Linked DNA regions of Homo sapiens. The protein of the gene in region 3 interacts with the protein of the main gene of each other region in a pairwise test. Each region holds a gene or a part of one and is shown on either strand. Other genes may lie near its edges. The genes, in order: SACM1L, PEX16, SLC71A2, THSD7B, TSNARE1, TMEM19 and CYB5B.

Region 1 (3,500 bases), on a different chromosome or scaffold from region 3:
ACACTGGGTATGTCAGGTACACCAAAGAGGTATACCACCTCTGAAAAATAACTCCCTATGTATTAATGAGGTTAAAAGAGGAAAGTGCTGGGAGAGAGGACCAGGAGTGCTGTGGAAATCCAGACAGAAGGTGAAGACTTCTGTGTGGGAGAGACACTCTGTGAGAGGGGAGCATATGAATGGTGCCCTGAGGATGGTGGAATTCAGACAGGCAGAGAGAGGTTGGCTCAACGAATTCAGGATAGAGGATGAAGGCTGGAAGGTGCCTCTTCTTTCAGAGTGACTAGGATTGCATCTCCAACGTCCAATACACCAAGTCTCAGACTCAAACCTCCAAATTACAGGACATTACTCAAAGGAGAATAAAGAATACATTCTTCTCACTTTAATCTTAAATGCTTTATTAACTCAGTAACATAGCAAAATATTAAGAGAAAAAAGAAAACCAGTAAAGACCTTGTCTCCTCAGGTTCTCAGGCAATTTTACTCTCAACCTTTAAAATGTAATGATAAGTAATATCTTAATCCATTAACATTTATTTGAGTTGGTTAAACTATACATCCATAAATGGAATACTTTGCAGCCATTAGCAATTAAGAACATGGGAAAACATACTGCTCAGTGAAAAAAAGCAGATAATGAAAATACGTATCTCACTTTTGAAAAAAAATCACAGACACTTATAAAGATTAAAACATCAAAATGTTAAGAGTGGTTAGCTTCTCTCTCAAAGGTATGATGATAAATAATATTTTCTCCTTTTCTGCCTACGTGTGCTTTCTATAATTACTATGTATTACTTTGGTAATGTGAAAGGAAAATAAAATCTCAGGACTCCAAATTTACTATGCCAAAGGAAAAAGTTAAACTTGGGAACTGAGTCTCACAAAACTACCCTCCTTTTGTTCCTAAGTAGACAGCTGCAAAGATAGTGGGCCACATATCCTCACAGATGGCCACCCTCACAAACTGTCACAAGCAAATTCCTTGTGGGCCCCAAAATCTTTACCCTAAAAGACAGTCCTGTTGAATCTCCCTCACCCTGACAATGTAAATTAACAGTTTATTTTCACAGGTATGGGACAAAGACAAGACTAGAAAATCATCCCTCCGCCCACCCCAAAACAAATGCAGATCTGACTTCTTTATCTACTCTATGTTTACTTTGTCTTACATAAAATGCAGATTTACTGAGCAGGAGATGAATGCATAATTGACTGTTCCTCTACCCCGTCCTTTCACATGTAACATGGATTCAGTGAGTGCTAATCAAAGCCTCACAAGAATGTGACCACTTATCTTACTACCTACCCTCCCCTTTTGTTTCCATTCCTCCTTCCTCTCCTGTACACTCTTTCCCCATTTAATACTGAAGTCCTTAAAACCCTCTTTGGAAAAAGCACAAGATACTGATCCTACTGTATCTTGTGTCTCTTTTTCCTGGGCAGGTCCTCAACCTTGGCAAATTAAGCCTCTAAACTGACTGAGACCTGTCTCAGACACTCATTGGTTTACAGTAATAAGAAAAACATGTTTTTAAAATCTGAGGTTAAAAAAAACGACAACCATCAAACTACTAGGTATGTTATTTTTCTTCCTGTCACATCTAATGACAATCTAATGTCACATCCACTTTACCCATTAAATTTAATAGGGAAACATCAAGTGTTCGGTGAACTCAAAAACTTAAGATGTTGTAAAAGAAAGGTCAACATTCTAACTAAGAAACAAATGTGTGGAGCAGACTTACCAGCCATAAGCAAACAGATAATGCACATTGAAAAGGCAACAACCATGATAATAGGCAACTGGAAAAGACAATAGAAAGAGATCATCATTTAAGAATGCTAATCAATGGCAGCAAAATCAGTTGTGCATGCATTGCTTGGGAAAAGAATAAAACTCATCTGTCAGCTAATACACAGCTAATATCTTTTGTCAACAAAACATTATTATTTATGGGTTCAATCACAACTGCCCTAGACTTTAGATGGGGGATGTGGTAAGATCGGAAGAAGCATGCTTTTGCTCCAAGCCAAAGGGTGCTAAATGGAAGGAGGATGCCCAGATGAGGACCTAGAACACTAGGCCTCCCTTCCATTCCAGAGCACTTGACACACTGGAAAGAAAATCCAGAGCGGCTCTTGCAGGGTCTGGTGAACAGAGGAGTCAAAAAGGAGAGAAGCATCAAAAATAAACTTTGCCTTCCATGTAACACGTTTGTCTCTGGCAATTCCCTCAATGTAAGAGAATTGAAGTTTTCCTGAAATGAGAAAGCTTCCACATTCCCTTTGCTTATGTTACTTCACATGAAAAGGATGTGTGAGAGTCTGAGGAAAAGAAAACAAATGCTCCACAGTTACTGTACTCCTCAGCCTGACCTCTTTGGAAAACTTAAGTATTTATATTTCATGTAATGAAATATAAAACCACATATAACGTTTTAAATTGAGACTGAAACCATCTATACCTTCAGACACAATGCTTTTAAAAACTTGAAAAATACAAAATGGTTTCTTACAGCCAGGAATTTCCAGTCCCTTGGAACACTTAAAGGACTATGAGATTCTAATTCATCCACTGAATAGTTTCCAAGAAATAAGTCTATGGAATCCTAGAACAGAAAGGAAGAAATTCGTAAACTCAGTGTGAGATAACATTAGTGATGAACAATGCAAAGATACAACCACGTAATGCCAGGAAAGCATCAAATACAAACTTACTTGTCTAAATCCATCGGAAAAGTTGTTCTTATAATATCGTATCATTGAGTTCCAGCCATCCATTATAAGTCCCAAATGAGTTCTCTTTCCAGTTCTGGTTAAAGAGGTTAAATTTTAAGTTACAGGTTTGTACACTGAATTCTCACACTGTTTTATGGCCAATAAGCATAAGGTATAGAAATAAGTGAGTGACAGATTTTAAAAACTATCCCTGAAAATACAGATACTTCACAAAAGAAATCACTTGTAGGTCCAAGAAATACCTATTTTCTTTCTAAAATATTACCAAAGGAGGCACAAAGAAACACACTAATTCCAGTTGCAAAGACAAGAAATATGAAGAGAAATACATAGCCCAGGTTAAGTGGTAGGACACAGCAAAGCAAACAGACTAGAAATCTTATTCTGCTCCCAGGGAACCCACATAGCAGAAAAAGAGCCACTGCATGCATAATACATTCAAAATGTTCTCATTAATGTCCTCATTACTCAGTGCAGTCTTTGAAAGCAGCATCAGCATCACCTGGGTGCTTTTTAGAGCACATCTCAAGACTGGTGCTTCAGGTACACGGTAAGGTCTGAGGAGCACTGTGGAGCGGTGGCTCTCAACCCTCCCCAAGCATCAGAATCTCCCAGGGTGGCTAAGAACACACCAGTACCCGGGCCTCACTTCCCAGAAATCCTGACTCCACAGGTCTCAAGTGAGGCCCAGATGCTGGAGTCTTGCTGTTGTTGCTGCTGCTGTCTGAAAGCTGCCCAGGTGATTTTTAAAAGCA
Region 2 (2,857 bases), on a different chromosome or scaffold from region 3:
TCCCAAAAAACAAAAGAAAAGAAAAGAAGAAGGCTGGCTGGGTGCAGTGGCTCCACCTATAATCCCAGCACTTTAGGAGGCCAAGGCGGGCCTTTGTTTCCCTAAAGGACAGGGAGCAGGGTCCAGAGAGGTGCCAGGGTGTGGTCCAGAAGGAGCAGCCTTACTCTTTTTTCTGTTTTAAAAAAAAGATGGGTCAGGCCAGGCGCGGTGGCTCACGCCTGTAATCCCAGAACTTTGGGAGGCCGAGGCAGGCGGATCACGAGGTCAGGAGATCGAGACCATCCTGGTTAACACGGTGAAACCCCATCTCTACTAAAAAATCAAAAAAAATTAGCCAGGCATGGTAATGGGCGCCTATAGTCCCAGCTACTCAGGAGTTGAGACAGGAGAATGGCATGAACCCGGGAGGCAGAGCTTGCAGTGAGCCAAGATTGCACCACTACACTCCAGCCTAGGCAGGCAACAGAGCCAGACTCCATCTCAAAAACAAACAAACAAAAAAAGACAGTGTCTCGCTCTGTCACCCAGACTGGAGTGCAGTCGCGCGATCTCGACTCACTGCAACCTCTGCCTCCTGGGTTCAAGCGATTCTCCTGCCTCAGCCTCCTGAATAGCTGGGACTACAGGCGTGTGCCATCACACCTGGCTAATTTTTGTATTTTTAGTAAAGACAGGGTTTCACCATGTTAGCCAGGATGGTCTCTACCTCCCGACCTTGTGATCCGCCCGCCTCGGCCTCCCAAAGTGTTGGGATTACAGGTGTGAGGCATCGTGCCTGGCTAAACTATGCCAGTTTTGTTTTTTTTTTTCTGTTTTGTTTTTTTGAGACAGGGACTTACTCTGTCACCCAGGCTAGAGTGGGATGGAGTGATCATAACTCACTGCAGCCTCAGCCTCCTGGCCTGATCCTCATGCCTCAGCTTCCTGAGTAGCTAGGACTTACAGGCGCACACCACCATGTCTGGCTAATTATTATTATTTTTTTTTTTTTTTTGTAGAATTGGGTTGCCCAGGCTGGTCTCGAACTCCTGGCCTCAAGCCAACCTCCTGCCTTGGCCTCCTAAAGTGCTAGGATTATAGGTGTGAGCCACTGCTGCCCAGCCTATGCCAGTTTTTAAGCTATTATTAGGTCCTAGACAAAGGGGGTCCCGGGAGCCTTGTCTGCCTCACAGTCCCAGCCACTGCACAGGGTTTCCCCCTGTCAGACTGTGGTCTAACCTCAAGCAGTCATAGTGGCAGGCCTGTGGAAGAACTAGTCCCAAGCTGCCCCCTGCTCAACCCAGCAGGCCTCTCTCAGGCTGGGAGCTCTGGACCCTCGCAGGTGACTGAGTGGGGGCTGGGCCAGGCAGGGAAGGCCAGGGGAGATCCTGGGTTTGGGATCTAGCTCTACCACTGGCTAGCTGGGTGTCTTTAAGTTGCCCAACCTCCTTGAACCTCCAGGTCCTCCTCTGAGAAGTGAGGATAAGCCAAACTATTTGGCAGGAAGAAGTGGAAATGAGCTAGAGGCCATGGGCGCCCGCCCTGTCGCCATCCCTGTGGGCCACCTGGCAATGCCCTCAGCCCTGCCCTCAGTGCCTCTCCTGCCAACCAATGTTTAAGTTCCTGCTCAAGTGGCCTGATGGCCCAGAGAGCTCTGCGGGCGGGACTGGGCTGGCATCTGGTGACTGCCACCCGGACAACACACAGTGCTTGGTGAACCCTGGATGAGGCGTGGGGAAGGGAAGGCGCCAGCAGGGACCGGAGCACCAGTGCCCGCTTGCCAGCCCTCTCCCTGGCTCAGGGTGTCCTGGGTGCTTACTCGGAGAAGCGGTCATAGAAAGGAGAGCGCAGCAGGTAGTAGAGCAGCAGGATGGTCCGGCGCCGCAGCTCCCGCCGCTCCCTCCGGGTCAGGCCCTTTCTGTCACTCAGGAGGCTCAGGCTGGGAGGCAGGGAGGACATGGTCAGGGCCAGGGGCATGATCTAGGCCCACGGAAGGGGAGGAGCCATGGGCTGGGTGTCCAGAGGGGCAGCAACAGGAGGAGCAGGGGCCGCTGCCACCCCGCCTATGTGAGGCCAGGATTATAGCAGAAAGCCCAGTGGAGAGTGAAGCCCCAGGCAGGCCCAGGCTCACCTGGTCACGTCCACAACACCAGCCAAGAGCCAGGGTTTCCACGACCTCTGACCCCACAGGCCCAGGCTGAGCACTGACGGCCAAGGCGTCAAGGATGTCTCCAGCACAGGGGCCTTGCTCAGCACACTCCCCACTCAATCCCCAGCCCACAGTGCCAGCCCTATCCTGCCCCGCGCTAAGGATACAGTGCAGCAGCGGCCGGGCAATGTACAAAAACTCTGCGATGGTCTCCTGCAGCCCCAGGGGGGTGGGGGTCGCACTCAGCTCCTCGTGATGCTGCTGCTGCCGTCCCTCCCGCTGCTGGGGAGCTCCCCAGTGCCTGGAGTGCAGGGACGGCGCTAGAACACAAGGGCGGCAGATGAGCGAGCCAGGCCCAGGCTGGGGCAGGGGAAGGTGGCTGCTGACCAAAGCCAGTCCCTCAAGCCCAGGCAGACAGCACCTAGGTGCCCAGGCCAGCCACATCCTCCACTTACTGTTCTGGAGGGTTCGCACCACCCGGTTTGACCGCTTCCCCACGTAGGACTGCTCATGGTTGCCAGGGCTGTGGTCACCATCTAGCAGGGATAGACAGAAGGCCATACAGTCAGAGGGACATGCTTCCAGCGGAGCCTGCAAAGAACGTGTGCAGTGAATGCTCAGGAGCTAAGGGGAGAACAGATGAGCTTGTACTATGGCAACAGCTGAGTCAAGGGAACTACAAGCAGGGTGGCGGCTCAGCACAAGACCCGTCCACAGAGGAAAGCACTC
Region 3 (3,500 bases):
TTTTATTGCCAGAAATTTTGGGATTTTTAATAAAATCCATTAGAAGTTTAAAAAGCTAACTTATAGATATGCATTTGACATTTAGTGTGGTTATAATTTGGAGTTTGCCCGATAAGCATCTGACCATCCAGATTGTGTTCTAAAATAAAGTGGACATTCCACATGCTTATAGGAGTGCACTGTGAAGGGGCTCAAGGTGGCTTCAGGTTGTGGGTGTGCTTAGCTGGCTCTGTGGTCTCTATACTGGATAGGGTCAGGTGGTGACAGAGAGACAGAAATCTACAGCTGTCTAGTCAAAAAGCTTCAACTTCCACCTCAACAAATTCTTTGTTGTTGTTAATAGTTTTTTTCTAAGAATAGCAGAGGGTTCCCCCTGACCCCAGGCAGTGCTAATGAAATGACCACCAAATGATAAAATGTTCAAACAGTGCAGTGTTTTTAGAAGATTAAATCAAGCACAGTACTTGAGTAGTTTGTAAGTTTTATCATCAGCCCTGCAGGAATTCTTTTCATACCATCTCACATCCCCGGTCCCCAGTTAAAGAAGACCAAAGAGCTAATGTTTTATTTGTGGGGAAGGTTTTTACAATTTTTGTTTGTAATAAGATAATCCTTTTTTACTCTTGTAGCTCTGCAGGGTATCTCCAGTTAATAGTTTATGAACACATTCTTAAATCACTTTAATTCTCTTTCATTCTTAAAATTTATATGCAACACATTTCTTTTGTCTTACTTAAAGCCAGGGAAGCATGGCTGCAGGTATGCACCTGTGGGACCCTGGTTGAGTGTGCTTTCCTGAAGGTGTGCACCTGCAGCAGGCAGACCTGGGTAAGGATATGCTTTCCCCAGAGGTGTTCACCTATGGGACCCTGGGTGAGAGTGTGCTTTCCCACAGGTCTCAGCCACCTTTGCGGCTAGTCTTGTCAGCAGCCCGGCCATTGGAGCATATCTTTCTGCCAGTTACGGAGACAGCCTCGTTGTGCTGGTGGCCACAGTGGTGGCTCTTCTGGACATCTGCTTCATCTTAGTGGCTGTTCCAGAATCTCTGCCTGAGAAAATGAGACCGGTTTCCTGGGGAGCTCAGATTTCTTGGAAACAAGCAGACCCTTTTGCGGTAAATAAAAATATGGAAATATTTACTTTCCTAAATGTCTTTCTAAGCCAAGCAAATGAAAGTATGTATGTGCAGCCTCAAGGATCCTAGCAGTTGTTGACTTATTTCTTTAGTAAAAATAGAAAAAATTAATTGCAAGTAAGGGATTGAGTTAGTCTTTGTATTAAGAAATATATAGAATTGGTACTTAAGCATGTCATAAACGAAGAGAGAGAAAATGTCTAGTTAATTCTTGGTGAGAGTTTGGGAAGAGAGTTTCTTTTTGCATGGTTGTTTTCATCCTTTTTAAACAAAATAAGTGAAAGTGGTCATTTGAAGTGGTCATTTTCACTCATTTTAACTCAAAAAGGATAAATGCCTTTGGTTTGAATGAGTTATTTTAATTTTGACCAGAGACGTTTAATTTGTTTGTTACAGATTGAGTATTGTTTTCTATAATATGTCTCTCTCTCCCTCTCTACCTCCCTCCCTTTCCTCTCCTTTTCCACCCCCTTCTTTTTTGGCATGGGAAGGTGGTGTGTCACTGGAAAACATATCTTATCTCTCACCTTCTCTCTACCCTACCTGGTTTGAAATTGTTCTTGGGGAAAAAAAAAGTTTGTAGACAAAAAAAGAACCAGCAGTTTGGTTTCTGCTTTTCGTCCCCCAAGTTTACCTTTCAGAAAAATTCATGTAATCAATCAGAAATTACTTTTTCTAAAATACCCCCTGAGGGCATGACCTAGGGATCCTGCCTGTTCTATTATTGTCACAATGTCAGACACCAAAAGAAATATTTAGAGAAGGAAGCCAGTAGTGGGGTTGGGAGCCAGCCAGTTAGGCTTCCCACCTTCCTTTGTAGTGATCAAGTTATGCATCAAAGCTCCTCTGTGAAGTAGAGCTACTGTGGCTTACTTTTCCGGGCAATCGTGGGGATTACTGTTAATGTGTGTAAATTAACTAGCCTAGTGTCTGTTGCCCAGCAAAGTCTCAACAACATTAGCTGCTTTTGCTTATTAATTACATAAAAGCTATGGTCTGATGAGCTAGAAGCTCTGTAGCACTTTCCACTCCTTTGGTATTAACTTACCATTTTGTTCTATTCAACAATCCAATGTATGTAAGAAGGATTTTTCAACAAGGTTGTAACATTCAACAAGTTCTTACCAGTTTGACCTTATGGCTGGAGCGTACTTATTTGTCTACCAGATATAAAAGTTGAACATGAACACTTTGAAGAATAGAGTGAATTTACCTATACGGAAACGCTCTGTACTGAATATGGCTTTAAAGAAGTTACATTATGAATTGAGAGAAGTGATTTTCTTAAAAGGTTCTGTAGGAATATATTTCCAGGTTCTGTTTATAGGAAGTTCGGGATCTGTTCAGGGATTTTAATCAGTGTGTTAACAAAGATGAGTAAGTGTGTTTTGTGGGTTTATTTTTTTGCTTTTTTTTTTAGCTATATGATTTGAAATATATACCTCTGAAATTAAGACTTGTAACTTCCTCAGAAAGATGGTGATAGAACTTCCTTTTATTAACCATTTGACTTTTGTTATTCATCTTAATAGATCAAAATAATGAAGCTGATGTCCCAGAACATTGGCAACATTAATGTGTATTGGCATTTTAAGTGTGTTCTTTCTGCTTATTCTCAGTCGTTGAAGAAAGTTGGAAAAGATTCTACTGTCTTACTAATCTGCATCACCGTGTTTCTTTCATACCTTCCTGAAGCTGGACAGTATTCAAGTTTTTTTCTCTATCTCAGGCAGGTGAGTAGTGAGTGGCTAGTAGCCTTTCAATACCAGGAAAATCAAAGATGGAGATTTGTCTAAAGATATTTTGAGGAAACCACTGCAGAGGAAAAAACATGTGAACTTGCTTCTAGTTACAAATGTAGGTGCTGGCATATAATTAGTAAACAGGGCACCTTTAATGCAATGATTTATAGTAAGATAATTACTGTGGAAATTTTTTTTTCTTGAGAATTAACCAGAATTAGCAGAAACATAATTTATCTTTTTTTTTTTTTGAGACGGAGTTTTGCTCTTGTCCACCAGGCTGGAGTGCAATGGCACGATCTTGGCTCACTGCAACCTCTACCTTCTGAGTTCAAGCGATTCTCCTGTCTCAGCCTCCCGAGTAGCTGGGATTACAGGCGTGCACTACCATGCCCAGCCAATTTTTGTATTTTTAGTAGAGACAGGGTTTCACCGTGTTGGCCAGGTTGGTCTCGAACTCCTGACCTCAAGTGATCCACCCGCCTCGGTCTCCCAAAATGCTGGGATTACAGGCGTGAGCCACTGTGCCCAGCCTGTTTTTTTTTTTTTTTTTTTTAAATAGACTATTTTTCTAGAACAGTTTTAGGTTCACAGCAAAATTGAGAGTAAGATATAGAGATTTC
Region 4 (3,500 bases), on a different chromosome or scaffold from region 3:
AAAAAAGGGACTAAATAACAGTACCTACTTTGCAACATTATTATGAGGATTAGACAAACAAATTCTAATGTACCTAGCTAGGTATGCAGCAATTCATAGGTAATTAACTAATAGTAATAATTACTAGTCACACTTGTTGCCTACCTGGATATTGGTAAGCCTTACCTTACAGATCCTCAAATGGCTGTTATTACCCAGGCCCCTACTCTCCATCACACTCCCCTCTTCAACATTTTCCAGAATTCTCAGTAGAGAGTGGTGCCCTTCACCATTTAAATCCTTTACTATCAGAACTCCACACATAGATGCTAATAAGAAAATAGATTCAATCAAACATGAAAATTAGAATTTACCACCTGAGTTGTTCAGACTGAGAGAGGGCTTTGTGAATTGGCATCATCAGTGAAAGCTCAGTGGAAGTATAATTGGAACTGGATTTTGACTAATAGATATAATTTGGATAACTGGGACCACAGGAGTAGGGAAAGCAACATTTTTGGCCACTTTAAATAAGTGTGAGTCTTGTGGGTGACTTTAAAGAGATAGGTCTAAAAGAAGAAGAAAGTGGATAATAGGAAATTAACGACAGGCAAGAGTTAAATTGATGTAGTATCTGGAATCCTATTTTTTCTGTTCAAGAAATAAGCATAATTTAAGTTACGTTTTTCAGGGACCATCTAGCAGTGCTGGAGTTTAGTTTTAGCTAGAAGAGATCCAGAAGAAAGCACCAAAAAATTTTACTCAAAGTCATTAACATCCCTTGCCTCTCTGTGATTGGCCAGAAGATATTCCAGTTCATAGAATGGGTCAAGTCAGATGAAATGAAAGCCCTACTAACAATATTTAATCACAAAAGTGAATGGAAGTCAATATGAAATAAATTGAGTTAATTCTGAAGACTAGAAACAGAGATTGAAAAAAAATAATTACTTTTTCCCCAAAAGAAAGAAGCCTTGTTGAACTACTCCCACATACATACATTTTAATTAAGTGGTCTGAGACAGCTGTGAGGTAGAAGAATTTACAGTTGTGGCAGATGACCTGGGTGAGAAATTTGGCTCTTCCTCTTAACAGGAAGGAAGGAACTTAATATCCTTATTTTATATTTTCTAAGAAAACAAATTAAATTGAAGTTAGAGTGGCTTTATATGAATTGATAACTCAGATGAAAGGGGTTTTGATACCTTTGGGCTCCTAGATAATATAAAGATAACAATATTTAAGTGTTTTAACAGCCAGAAATATTAGACACAGAGAAAATTAAAATGTAAACATTTGATGTTCAACTACTTGATAATGCCAATGATTGCATTCATTCTTGTCACGAGTACAAATATCAAGGGATAATATTTAAAATATTTACCAGTTGGTAGGTCTGGGGCATAAGCCAATCAGAACAGCCTTAGGTAATATCACTGGAGTGTGTCCCAAGGCCTCTTTGCCATACCAGGTGGGTGACACCCAGTGGCTCTCTCAAGAAGTGATCTAAGGGGAGTGGTCTGTAGGACCAGGATGATAGTGGGACCTTCAGAGGGCTCAGAGCAATACTCATTGACCTACTGGAGCACATGTATTTCAATATTTTTACAAGTATTTCAATATTTTACAAATAGTTCAATATTTTTACCAGTAAGGCTGTATTCATGTGCCCTGTCTAACTTGCCCTGAATAAGTCTAACGTAAGCACAAAAGGCAAAAATCAATAGAGGAGAGCCCAGAAGCAAACTCTGCAAGAAGAGATTACTGCAAGCCTTAGTCTTATTATAATTAAAATCTTTCATGTATGCATACTACATGGTATGCTTTTTAAAATAACCATCTGAAAGAACTCAAAATTAAAATATGCATTGCTACAAAGCTGCAGTCTAAGACTAAGGCAATCGTGCCTAACTGCCACGAAGTTCAGAGCCTTACTCAACATTGTGATTTTTCCAGAAGTAATGAGCTGTTCGCTAACATAACACTAGGACACAAATCAGCAGCCAGCCCTCATGCAGGCAAGTGGAACACGGCCATGAGTTTCTTCCAAGTCAAGGCATTGAAAAATCGTTTGTGCATTAGTTACTTAGGATTCTGTTTTTAGCTATGGCATGTTTAATTACAAGAGGCTCATAATTAAAATATGCCCAGAAAGGCAAAATCAAAAGCGAGCATCATGTCCCTTGCTGCAAAACACCTAAGTTCAACAATGATAGCCTTTTTTATTCATGCAGGAAACATTTTCACACTTTCACAGATCTCCACATCTAGGTCAATGTCTAACCTTTTCTAGTAGGTGGACCTCTTCTTTTTAACGTCAAAAAATTCTACTGATTTCCACATCACAGCAAAGAGTTGTGTTTTTAGAATCCATAAATTGCAAAAATACCTAGTAACCAAAAATTAATATGAATTTAGCGATGCTTTTATACATACTGTGTTTTAGTCATCACAACAGTATATACACACTTAAAGTAGTTCTTATAGATGCCAGATGACTTCATTGTTCAGCTTACAAACCACGCTTAGATTCAACTCCTGTTACCAAAAGCATGAGTCCCTACCAGCAGTGAAACTATTCTACAGCATCTCTAGAGTTAGTTTCAAAGTTTTACCAAAAGATACGGAGTAATTGGGTTTCACTAATATCTGATTTTCCCTTTCAAATGAAATGCTTGATGTGGTAGCAACAAAATGATCATACTAAATCACCGGTGGACTATAACCTGGCAAAATAACTACGTCTCTATATTTTGTATAACTAGCCCATACCAGGATTCATGGCTTAGAATGAAAGCATAAATGTAGGAATTCAGTGGCTGGGATTCCTATTTCCTTTTGTCAAGAGATACTTACAAGATGACCAAAAACTACCTAATCCTCCTTGGCTTCATTTCAAAAATAGCCACTGTTAGCTCTCAAGAATAACCACCCATGAACATCCTACTAAAACGTCCACAAAATAATCTCGGTAGATGGAGAAGTTTTAAAGGGTGGGAATAGAATGCTTATCATCTTGGAGCACAGGTGCCTGTGATTTTAGATCTGTTAAACTACAGACCCCACTAAAATTCACAATAGTAAATTTCTAGACTAGAAGTGGAGTTAAAAATCCCTCTACTTTCACAGGTTTAACGTGCTAATTATCACTTAGATATTAATCTTGTTAACAGCTCTAAATTAAGGACCTGTGTTATATTTAGGAAGCTGCCTGGTGTTAAAGTTAATGAAGCAGCTTCTTTTATAGTTATATACTGGGAAACATTTTCTTTTGAAAATATGAAGCACTTATGTGCAATCCATATTCAAAAATCCAACAGCATATCTAAGTAACTCATGTAGTTTTTGATAATACAATACCCAATAGTTATTCAAAGACCCAGCCTTTATGCTTTGTCTGTAGAGCATCTCTGAAGCCTTAATAGTGCTATTCTTTTTTTCCCATCAACTAATATAGTTGTCACTACTTAGAATTCTTTAATCTGTTTGTCTTAATCATGTATTTAATATATTGTATCATT
Region 5 (3,302 bases), on a different chromosome or scaffold from region 3:
GCCCCCAACGTGGAGCTGGGTGGCAAGCAGCAGAGAGGCCACAGCCTGGGAGCAGCCAGGGCCAAAGCCAGCCCTTTGCTTTCGGAGTGGGAAGCTGAGGTCTCAGGAGGGGCAAGGGCTTGTCCTAGGCCCTCAGGGAGGAAGACAAACGACCTCCGCCCATCAAGGGCTCAGTGTGGCATTCCAGGCCACTCAGGCAGCCTCCTCCTCGGGGAAGCCCCTCTTGGTGGGGGCTGGGACAGCCCCAGGCAAGGAGCAGTGCCCTGGCTCCACGCAGCACCAAGCCAGCTTCCCACCCCTCCACCACAGCAAAGCCCCCAGCATGCCCCTCCCCAGCTGTGAGCACAGGTTCATGTTCATACACAAGCTCACACACAGCCACACTCACTCCCCAGCAAGCCCCAGCCTGCCGCCTGCAGTCCTGTTGGCCTCCATTCCCATCCACATCCCACCCAGGCTTCATCTCAGGGGTCCCTGACAGGTGAAGACAGGCACGTGGCTGGATAAGCCACAGCGGTTTATTCGGGTGCTCAGCTGGGGCCGACACAGGGGCGAGTGGGGTCAGTGCAGGGGAGGACAGCAGGCAGCTGTGAAGCTCTCGGGTCCATTGCAGGCCAAGTGACGGCATCAGCTGACAACGCAGCGGACTCCATCAGCTCCCAGCTCCGGGCCAGGAGGGGTGCTCGGGGCTGGAGAGCCCACACCACAGCCAGCTGACGGTTCAGCGGCCGATGCTGCAGATGAGAAAGTGGAGGCTCAGTCAGGGCCCTGACCAGGTGACAGGGAGAGCTCAGAGTGCCAGAGGGTGGGGTGGGAAGCACCTGGGCCTGGTCTGGGGGCTGACAGTGTCCATGGAGGTAGGGCCCTGAGAGGGGAGTGGCCACCTGCAGCTGCAGGGGCCAGACCAGACTCTCCTGGCCCTGGTCAGGCTCCACGCAGGCCTCGGTCACCCATCCCCACGCTCAGCACCATCCCCTGCCCTGCACTCCATCCCTGCCCAGTCCATCCTTCCTGGCCGCATCCATGTGCCCAGGCTGCGGACTCCTGCAGCTAGAGCCTTCCCGAGTCCACCGGAGCTCCCCAGGCCCAGTACAGCAGGCCCTGCCTGGCGCACCCACCGGCCCTCCCTCTCCTGGGCACGCTTCCACCTGACTTCCAAGCCCACGAGACGACCCTACCTCTTCCCTGGCCCCTCCCTCTCCCCTCCTCCTCCTTCTCTCCAATCCTTCCCCCCCCTGTCCCTCCCTCTCCTGTCCCCTCTCCTTCTCTTCCCTCCCTCCCCGCCTTTCTCCAATCCTTCCTCCCCTTCCCTCTCTCCTGCCCGGTCCCTCTCTTCCCTCCCTCCCCCTCCCTCTCTCCCATCCTTTCTCCTCCCTCTCTCCTCTCCCTCCCCCTCTGCTCCTTCTCTCCAATCCTTCCTCCTCCCCCTCCCTCCTCCTCCCTCTCTCTAATCCTTCCTCCTCCCCCTCCCTTCCCCCTCCACCTTCCTGTCTCCCCTCCCTCACTCTCCCTCTCTTTTCCCTCCCTCCCCCTCCCCACCTTCTCTCCAATCCTTCCTTTTCCCCCTCCCTTCCTCTCCCCTCCCTCTCTCCCCTCCCTCCCCTCTTCCTCTCCCCCTTCCCTACCCCCTCCGCCTCCCTCTCTCCCCTCCGACTCTGCCCTCCCTCCCCTCCTCTCTAATCCTTCCCTGCCAGGGAAATCCTGTGCGGACTCCGGGGCTGGGGAGAATGCCCCTCCTCCAGCCCCTCTCCTGGGGAGCAGGCCACTTGCTCCTGAGGCCCCATCACGTGCCCCTCTAGCCTTGGGCAGATGGCAAGGGGGCAGTTGCTGCTTCTCTGTACTTTTCCATGATGACTTTTTTGCAGCAAGCATGTATCATTTTTGCACAACCAATAAATCTACTTTCAAAACAAAAAACTGAAAACCCCTATAAAAGTCCAATAAGGACAAACGCCAGTTGCCTGGCCGTGGGCAGAGGCAGCTGGAGACAGGGCTGTGGGCGGCAAACTCCCTGCGGCCAGGAGCAAAAGGCCAGGGCCTTCTGGAGGAGCAGAGGAAGGAGGCAGCTGGGGAGGGGGCCCCTCAGGACTTGGTGGCACACTCACTGCTGGCTCCCCGAAATCCAATTACCACAGGAAGCAGGGAGGCGAGGGGAGGGTGAGGCTGTGGGCCTGGGCCAGTGAGGGGCCTCTTGGGTGCTGAGCCAGGTGCCCAGCAGGTGGCCCACGTGATGTGCAGGCGGCTCCTGCAGGGCGGAGCTGAGCCAAGGCACCTGGTGCTGTGGGGCTCCCCATCAGAGCCCAGCCCCCCAGGAAGCCCTGGCCTTTCCAGGATTCTCCCCAAAAGGCACCCGGTGCTGTGGGGCTCCCCATCAGAGCCAGCCCCCCCGGGAAGCCCTGGCCTTTCCAGGATTGTCCCCAAAATGCCAGTCCCTGGAGACACCTGTCCTGCCCCCAAGGCTTTCCATAGCTGGTATGAGGGGGTCCTCAGGGCTGGCAAGAGGCATGGCCAGGGTCTGAGGGCCTCAGGGCTCAGGGACTGGCCGACTCTGACATAGCCAAGGTCCAGGGAGCAGGCGATGACGCTGGGTGCGGCCCGCCTGGCCCTGGGAACCCAGAAAGGAGGATGGGCGGCCACTGCAGGGCTGCAGCTGGAGTCAGGGCAGACCCCGCTCCCCACCCACAGCTCCAGCCTGGCCCCATCCACACCACAGGGCCTCCCTGGACCCTTCATTCCGCCATGGGGCTCGGCCTTGGCACATCCAGAATCCCCTTGGGGCTGCCCCACCCCTGCCACCTCCTCTCCCCGCCACCCCGGATTTGGGATGGTGCCCGTCTGTGCCCCACTGCACCCAGTCCCTGGATCCCTCGGGATAGTTCTCCAGTCATCCCCAAAACTTGGCCCCTCACTTCCTGCCCAGAACTCTGGGCTCTGCCAGGCCCAAGGTCTACCTTGCGCTGGGCCTGGGCTGTTCCCTCTGCTGGAATGATTTTCCCTGCACCCCACTCTCGGTGAGGCCTGTTTAAAATCACAACCAGCCTCATTCCAGCCCCTGCTACGGTCTGAGTGCTTGTGTTCCTCCAAAACTCAAAGGCGAAAATAACCCCCAGGGTGATGCTGTGAAGGGTGGGGCCTCTGGGAAGTGCCGTGGTCCTGAGGGTGCAGCCTCCTGGTGGGATCCAGGCCCCAAGAGCTCCCGCCCTCCCTCCGCCACGTGAGGATGTAGGAGAGGTCACCCTCAGCAGCCCAGAAGGGCCCTATCAGAACCCAGCCCTGGCGGCACCCTGATCTGGGACTTCCAG
Region 6 (3,500 bases), on a different chromosome or scaffold from region 3:
CAATGCTGGGCAGATTGCTTGAGCCCAGGAGTTTGAGACCAGCCTGGGCAATATAGTGAGACCCCATCTCTATTTCTAATTTTTTTAAATTAAGATAATTTTAAAAATATTATCTAAAATATTATCTTACATTCATATGGCATTGCTTGAAAGGAGATTAAAATATGGTAAAAAATGTGTACTCAAAATGGCATTCAGTTTACTGCTTGCTAAGAATTTAATTGGTAAAATGCAAATTGCTAGAAATGTACATTTCAGGTTATAATATAAAAATAATGGAAAAAATCCATTCTTTTTTCACAGCATTGATGTATGAATTGAATATAATTCTGTGTTTATATATGTTTCTTTCAGGGCTAGTCGTTGGATTTATCCTAACCATTGCAAATTTCAGCTTTTTTACCTCTTTGCTGATGTTTTTCTTGTCTTCTTCGAAACTCACTAAATGGAAGGGAGAAGTGAAGAAGCGTCTAGATTCAGAATATAAGGAAGGTAAAATTATGTTTGATATCATTCAAAATAGTAAACTTCATTTAATCCTAACATAAGGTTTTTTTTTGTTTTTGTTTTTGTTTTTTTTTTTGAGACGGAGTCTTGCTCTGTTGCCCAGGCTGGAGTGCACTGGCGCAATCTCGGCTCGCTGTAAGCTCCGCCTCCCGGGTTCACACCATTCTCCTGGCTCAGCTTCCTGAGTAGCTGGGACTACAGGCGCCTGCAACCATGCCTGGCTAATTTTTTTGTATTTTTAGTAGAGACGGGGTTTCACCGTATTAGCCAGGATGGTCGCAATCTCCTGACCTCGTGATCCGCCTGCCTCGGCCTCCCAAAGTGCTGGGATTACAAGCGTGAGCCACTGCGCCCAGCCAACATAAGCTTTTAATCAGAATGTTGTTTAAACTGTCAAAACACATCAATTTTATATGAGAATTCCTTTAGTAGCCAAATTGAGTTTATAATTTATTTCACAACAATGGGAAATGACAGCAGAATTTTAGAAGCACTAGAGTCTATCATGATTTTTCCAGATTTGTTAATAACAGTATAAAATCTGGGCAAATGTACCATAACACTTTTACTGTTTTTAAATTTTTTTGTTGTTTTTCTTTTCTTAAACTTTAAAACATAAACACCTATAACTGCATGGTTTTTCTTCTAAGGAGGAATCATTTGTTTGTCCTTTTCATCTGTTTGTTTCCAGGTGGGCAAAGGAATTGGGTTCAGGTGTTCTGTAATGGAGCTGTACCCACAGAACTGGCCCTGCTGTACATGATAGAAAATGGCCCCGGGGAAATCCCAGTCGATTTTTCCAAGCAGTACTCCGCTTCCTGGATGTGTTTGTCTCTCTTGGCTGCACTGGCCTGCTCTGCTGGAGACACATGGGCTTCAGAAGTTGGCCCAGTTCTGAGTAAAAGTTCTCCAAGACTGATAACAACCTGGGAGAAAGTTCCAGTTGGTGAGTTTTTTCTTCTTTTTGACCCATTGGTAGACACAGTTGGTGAGTCTTGATTTGAGATTCTTTAAAAAAACCAAAAAACCTCTTGATGTAATGTATTTTAGAGCCTTTTAAGAACTTTATTTAGTCTCTTTAAATAATAATTGGAAAATTTCTGTCGACTATTAAATTGGTAATAATAAATAATATTTGCAGGAAATGTTAGCAAGACCTAGATAAGCAATACAGGAACATAGAGATTGATTTGCAAACATATCAGTAGGGAAGGAAAAGAGAGGGAACAATAGAATATTTATTGAGGGCCTGTTAGGATATCAGTGCTTTAAGATATATCTCAATTCTCCATTATCAACATTATCAACAACTACATAGGTTGAGCATCTCAAATCTGAAAATCCAAAATCCAAAATGCTCCAAAATCTCAAACTTTTTGAACACTGACATGATGCTCACAGGAAATGTTCATTGGAACATTTCAGATTTACGATTTTCAGATTCGGGATGTTCAACTGTTAAGTCTATATAATGCAAATATTCCAAACTCTGAAAAAATTTGAAATCCAAAACACTTCTGGTCTCAAGCAATTCAAGTAAAGAGAATACTCAACCTATACTGCTTCTTTTTGTCCTCTGATGCTTCTCTTCCTCTTCGTCCCCTTCTTTTCTTTCTACCCATCCTATCCCCCATCATCACCTTCTCCTCCTTTTTTTTCTCCTCTTCTTCATCATCATTGTAACAGCTAGCATATTTTAGATACCTACTACAGAGCACTATTCTAACTGCTTTACACGGATTGCCACTTAGTACTCCTAATAATCATATAAATTGGTTCTTTTATTATTTATATCTTATAAAGAAACTAAAGCACAAAGAAGTTAGATAAATTAACTACAGTCACATGGCTTAAGAGTAGCAGAATTGGGCCTGGCAAGGTGGCTCATGCCTGTCATCCCAACTACTAGAGAGGCTGAGATGGGAGGATCACTTGAGCCTGGAGTTGGAGGCTGCAGTAGGCTATGATCACACCATTGTACTCTAGCCTGGTTGATAGAGCAAAACCTTGTCTCTGAAAAGAGAGAGAGAGAGAGAGAGAGAGAGAGAGAGAGAGAGAGAGAGAGAGAGAGAAGCAGAACCAAGATTGAAACCAGGCAGTCTGGCTTCATTGAACCATTCTGCTTCATTGCTTAAAATGTCAAGAGTTACCGAGGAGAAAATACTGTTTTCTAAAAAGCTACAGTCTTTAGATTGCATTAAAGAGAATGCTTTCTTTAAATTAGTCTTGATTAGATAGGTACCTTGCTGTCCTTGCCTTTATGTGTTTGCTGATTATTAACCGGATGATTTTCTGCATGTTTCTTCTTCAGGTACCAATGGAGGAGTTACAGTGGTGGGCCTTGTCTCCAGTCTCCTTGGTGGTACCTTTGTGGGCATTGCATACTTCCTCACACAGCTGATTTTTGTGAATGATTTAGACATTTCTGCCCCGCAGTGGCCAATTATTGCATTTGGTGGTTTAGCTGGATTACTAGGATCAATTGTGGACTCATACTTAGGGGCTACAATGCAGTATACTGGTAAGAACATTCCTTCATTCTTGCAACTTATTGGTATGTTAAAGAAATAGGGAAAAGAAAGAAAAAAATGTTAACAATGAAAACAAATCCAAAGACACAGGGTGTTGAGGGACTAGAAATGATAGGGCAAAGTCTCTTTCACAATTTTGGTTTTCTTATTCTTTTGTATTAAATTAATTGAAAGAGAATTAGTCCCGCGCAGCAATGATTAGAAGCCATGTGGGGAAGATACAATAGTGCAGAGAACAGACGTTTTTGTGTGAGCCATTACCTAATCCCAGAAAAGCAAGACGTTTGGGATCAGATCATTTTAATACAATTCCTTCCATTCATTTTCCTATTCCATTTGAGGAGTAATTGTACAAATCTGACTATACACACGACCTACTTTCTTACTGTGGTATCATGCTTGCTATTCTTGCCCCTGAGTTTTTTGCTTCATTAAGATATATGGTCGATGTCTGGGCACGGT
Region 7 (3,500 bases), on a different chromosome or scaffold from region 3:
TTGCATGTATCATTTTTTGAAGGGTCCTGAAATAAAAAAAAAAAAAAATTCAAAAATAACAAACAAAAAGAAAGAAGATTAACATAGCACATGTACATTTTCTTGATCAAGCTATGTCAACCCTGTAACTGATACCAGAACTTCATCTTTCATGCATTTTGGTGTTTACAAATATATAAGCAATGGATAGACTGGGAATTTTATTTCTGATAACATACTGGCACTTCACTAGGTTCCTTCCTAGTGAAGAATCACTAATGAAAGCATAGAAATGACCTAAACTTTTTTAGATGTTAAAAAATGTTAATGATACAAACTATATTGAAATGGACTACTCTGTGGTCATGATGATGTACCTGGTTCAGCTGGGCTTGCCACTGGCAATAGCTAACATCACACTTTCTAAAAACATTTTTTAAAGTCCAAAAAGCTCTTCTAACATGTAGATCAACTGTGAAATGCTCTAGATCATACAGATGATTGCTTGTAGATCACAAAAATATACTGGTTCACTCCTTGAAATCATAATAATTATGACAGGAGACCTTAGAATTGATTTCACAATGAAAAGAGAAAAAATGGAGTCAAGGGAAAGAAAATGATAAAATAATCTTAAAAAACAAATCTTGGCAATAAAAAGTACTGAAGTATTGATATATGCTACAAACTTCACAGCATTATCCTAAGTGAAAGAAAGCAGACACAAAAGACTACATATTATATAAATCTGTTTACATAAAATGTTCACAACAGGACAATCAATAGAGTTAGAAGTAGATTAGTAGTGGTTGCCTAGGGCTGGTGTGAGGAGGACGAGTTGTGGGGAAATGGAAAACGACTGCTAATGAATATGGGGTTTCTTCTTGGAGTGAGGAAATTGTTCTAAAATAGACTGCACAGTTCTGTAAATACACTAAAAACCATTGATTTGTACATTTTAAATAGGTAAACTGTATGGTATGTGAATTGTATCACGATAAAGCTGTTATTACAATTTTTTTACTCAATTCAAGTATCAAACGAGTTATTGATTCCATTAACCAGCTGTATAGTACAAAAGGCCTGCTAACTTACTGCCAGAGGACAATAACCCTTTAGCATAGGTTGCTGCTGCCCAAAATACCATCTTTGCAAAATGTAGAAGTATATCAGGGTATGAACATGGAATATTAGCTCTGCTTAACCACCGTTTTCAATAATCTCCAAGAATTTCCAGAAACCAATCACATTGGCCCCAATATACTTTAGAGCAGTCCATGAAATGAGTTTTAATTTCATATATCCAAAACACTGTCATGCAAATGAATACATGCCCCAAACCTGAAAGAAATTAGTCTGTAGGCAAGAAAAATGGCAAACGAAAGGTTTTAAAGAAACCATATTAACATACTTCTATACTTCTTTAAGACTTTAATGATTATCATTATCTGGGACATTTCAACTAGTCTAGTAAGGATCCGATTAATTAAAATGAGTTACAAGTCAATCTTTGAAAAATACAACAAATGTTACTATCTACAGATTCGGAAGGTAGGAGTGGTAGCGATGGTAGTATGTGCATCAAGTTAATTTATAATGCTGCCTTTTAAAATAAATATTCCACTACAGTAACCGAGAAATAATTGAATTCCATCAAGAAAATGTTCATGGTCTTTTATGCTTTAGCTACATAAATACCAATGATTTATAGACAAAAAATGTAGTTACTATTTTTAAAAGGGATAATTTGAAAGGCTTATATGAGAGCATCACAGCATAATATATGTATTATGATGTTTAATCTATAATTAGAGTAAAAATCATATACTTCATATAAATGGATTCTCTAAATTTCAAAGCTTTTAGCCTCTTTTACAATCAAAAGCCCTGGATCTCTGCTAAGTAGGGTGAGCCTTAGAAAAAGGTAATAAGCAACTGAAGAAGAAAGAGAACAAAGACAGCCAAAACCGTACTATGCTGAAATGTAAAAATTTCTAAACAATAAATAACTTAAAACATATGGTGTTCTTTGAACTAAGTACTGCAAAATGTGCCTGTTTTAAGATCAATCCATCCCTGGGGACGCAAAAAAAAGACCAACCTGTCTAACCCATTAAAGGAAAGAGAAGAGAAAGAGGCATACACTCCCTTTAGGATACTGATAGCCAAGTAGATGCAAACCATAGTGACCCCACTTTTAATCAAATACATAATAATCAAAGAGATGTTGAAGGCACAGCTCTTAGCAGCCAGGACTCTCAGCCAAATTTGGAAATAAACCAAATCGCTTGTTTTTAAACTGAAATGAAAAAAGTTCTATTAACACATAACCTCCCTTCACCTCCACCCTTCCCCTAGGCACAGTTCCCCCCAGTCTTCATTTCCACAGCTAAGCACTAGACTAAAGCTAATGGATGCTTAAGTGAAAAGCTTACAGTTTATAGTTGACTTTAATTTATCCCTTCAGGTATTGAGGCATATCTAGCTGGTTATGTCCATGCCCAGATTTTAATGCTCTCAATCTTTGGCCTGGAAAGTAATAATTGCAATACTATGATTTTAGTTACAAGTGGTGAATCAAATCCAAAGTTCTTCCAGCATAACCCCTACCAAGCAATTAATATGCATGCTTCTTTTTCTTCGAAAAGCTTAGAATACACTGGCAAACAACAAAATTGCTGTGAGTTTTGGTATTATAGGTTCTAAAACAAATTGCTGTTAAGTCTACTCTGACTTTAGCTCAAAACTCATGGAAATTAACTGTTTAAATAAAACTGGTTCCTCAAGTTCAAGGTTCATTAAGGCTTTAATTCCCCACTAAAATAAATAAGTAGGGCTGGGCACCTTGGTTCACATCTGGTGAATCCCAACACTGGGAAGGCTGAGGCAGGAGGATCACCTGAGCCCAGGAGTTCAAGGCTATAGTGAGCTAGGATTGTGCCACTGTACTCCAGCCTGGAGGACAGATCAAGACCCTGTCTCAAAAATAAATAAATATATTTATATACATATAAACACAAAAGACGGACTTTTTAGGGAAAAAGGAAATATTTTGTAATACCTGAATAGAATATTTATAAAGCTGCTCAAAATTAAAATTATATCTAATATCTTCAAGCCCAATGTTATAAATCAGTTTCCTCGTTTGTAAAACGAAAAGCTCAGATCAATGTGAATTCTAAAGTCATATTCAATTATCTCAACACAATTTTCTGAGCCAAGGACATTGTGGTGAAACCTAGAGCAGCAGGCTTCTAAAGGGTAGAGAGAAGAAAACACCATTCTCTTATGTCTAGGAAGACTGAAGAAGCACTACCGTAAGTAGATTTTTCTCTCTTCCACCAGCTACATAGAGGAGTAATTTCCCAGATCCTTGTCGCACCATAAGCACTGACCCAATTTGATAAGATTAAGAGAATGACAAAAAGGCCAGTCGCGGTGGCTCATGCCTGTAATCCCAGGCATGAATTACATGAGAGGCCAAGGTGGGCGGATCACGAGGTCAGGAGATCAAGATCATC

What was found.
Region 1: the proteins of SLC71A2 (region 3) and SACM1L interact in binary tests that used the Homo sapiens proteins (3 or more experiments, as listed by UniProt).
Region 2: the proteins of SLC71A2 (region 3) and PEX16 interact in binary tests that used the Homo sapiens proteins (3 or more experiments, as listed by UniProt).
Region 4: the proteins of SLC71A2 (region 3) and THSD7B interact in binary tests that used the Homo sapiens proteins (3 or more experiments, as listed by UniProt).
Region 5: the proteins of SLC71A2 (region 3) and TSNARE1 interact in a two-hybrid assay, tested with the Homo sapiens proteins (one large-scale study listed by BioGRID).
Region 6: the proteins of SLC71A2 (region 3) and TMEM19 interact in binary tests that used the Homo sapiens proteins (3 or more experiments, as listed by UniProt).
Region 7: the proteins of SLC71A2 (region 3) and CYB5B interact in binary tests that used the Homo sapiens proteins (3 or more experiments, as listed by UniProt).

What each region holds. Positions count from the first base shown.
Region 1 is NC_000003.12:45,737,896-45,741,395, reverse strand, and holds part of SACM1L (phosphatidylinositol-3-phosphatase SAC1), read right to left. Parts: intron 2,819-3,500; coding exon 2,725-2,818; intron 2,616-2,724; coding exon 2,523-2,615; intron 1,810-2,522; coding exon 1,752-1,809; intron 1-1,751.
Region 2 is NC_000011.10:45,912,021-45,914,877, forward strand, and holds part of PEX16 (peroxisomal biogenesis factor 16), read right to left. Parts: intron 2,665-2,857; coding exon 2,584-2,664; intron 2,449-2,583; coding exon 2,296-2,448; intron 2,184-2,295; coding exon 2,111-2,183; intron 1,919-2,110; coding exon 1,799-1,918; intron 1-1,798. UniProt on the Homo sapiens protein: Required for peroxisome membrane biogenesis. May play a role in early stages of peroxisome assembly. Can recruit other peroxisomal proteins, such as PEX3 and PMP34, to de novo peroxisomes derived from the endoplasmic reticulum (ER).
Region 3 is NC_000009.12:94,444,069-94,447,568, forward strand, and holds part of SLC71A2 (hippocampus abundant transcript-like protein 1), read left to right. Parts: intron 1-895; coding exon 896-1,114; intron 1,115-2,754; coding exon 2,755-2,868; intron 2,869-3,500.
Region 4 is NC_000002.12:136,768,545-136,772,044, reverse strand, and holds part of THSD7B (thrombospondin type-1 domain-containing protein 7B precursor), read right to left. Parts: intron 1-3,500.
Region 5 is NC_000008.11:142,211,580-142,214,881, forward strand, and holds the end of TSNARE1 (t-SNARE domain-containing protein 1), read right to left. Parts: intron 735-3,302; 3' UTR 501-734; downstream 1-500.
Region 6 is NC_000012.12:71,696,082-71,699,581, forward strand, and holds part of TMEM19 (transmembrane protein 19), read left to right. Parts: intron 1-354; coding exon 355-492; intron 493-1,198; coding exon 1,199-1,453; intron 1,454-2,818; coding exon 2,819-3,028; intron 3,029-3,500.
Region 7 is NC_000016.10:69,455,619-69,459,118, reverse strand, and holds part of CYB5B (cytochrome b5 type B), read right to left. Parts: intron 27-3,500; coding exon 1-26. UniProt on the Homo sapiens protein: Cytochrome b5 is a membrane-bound hemoprotein functioning as an electron carrier for several membrane-bound oxygenases.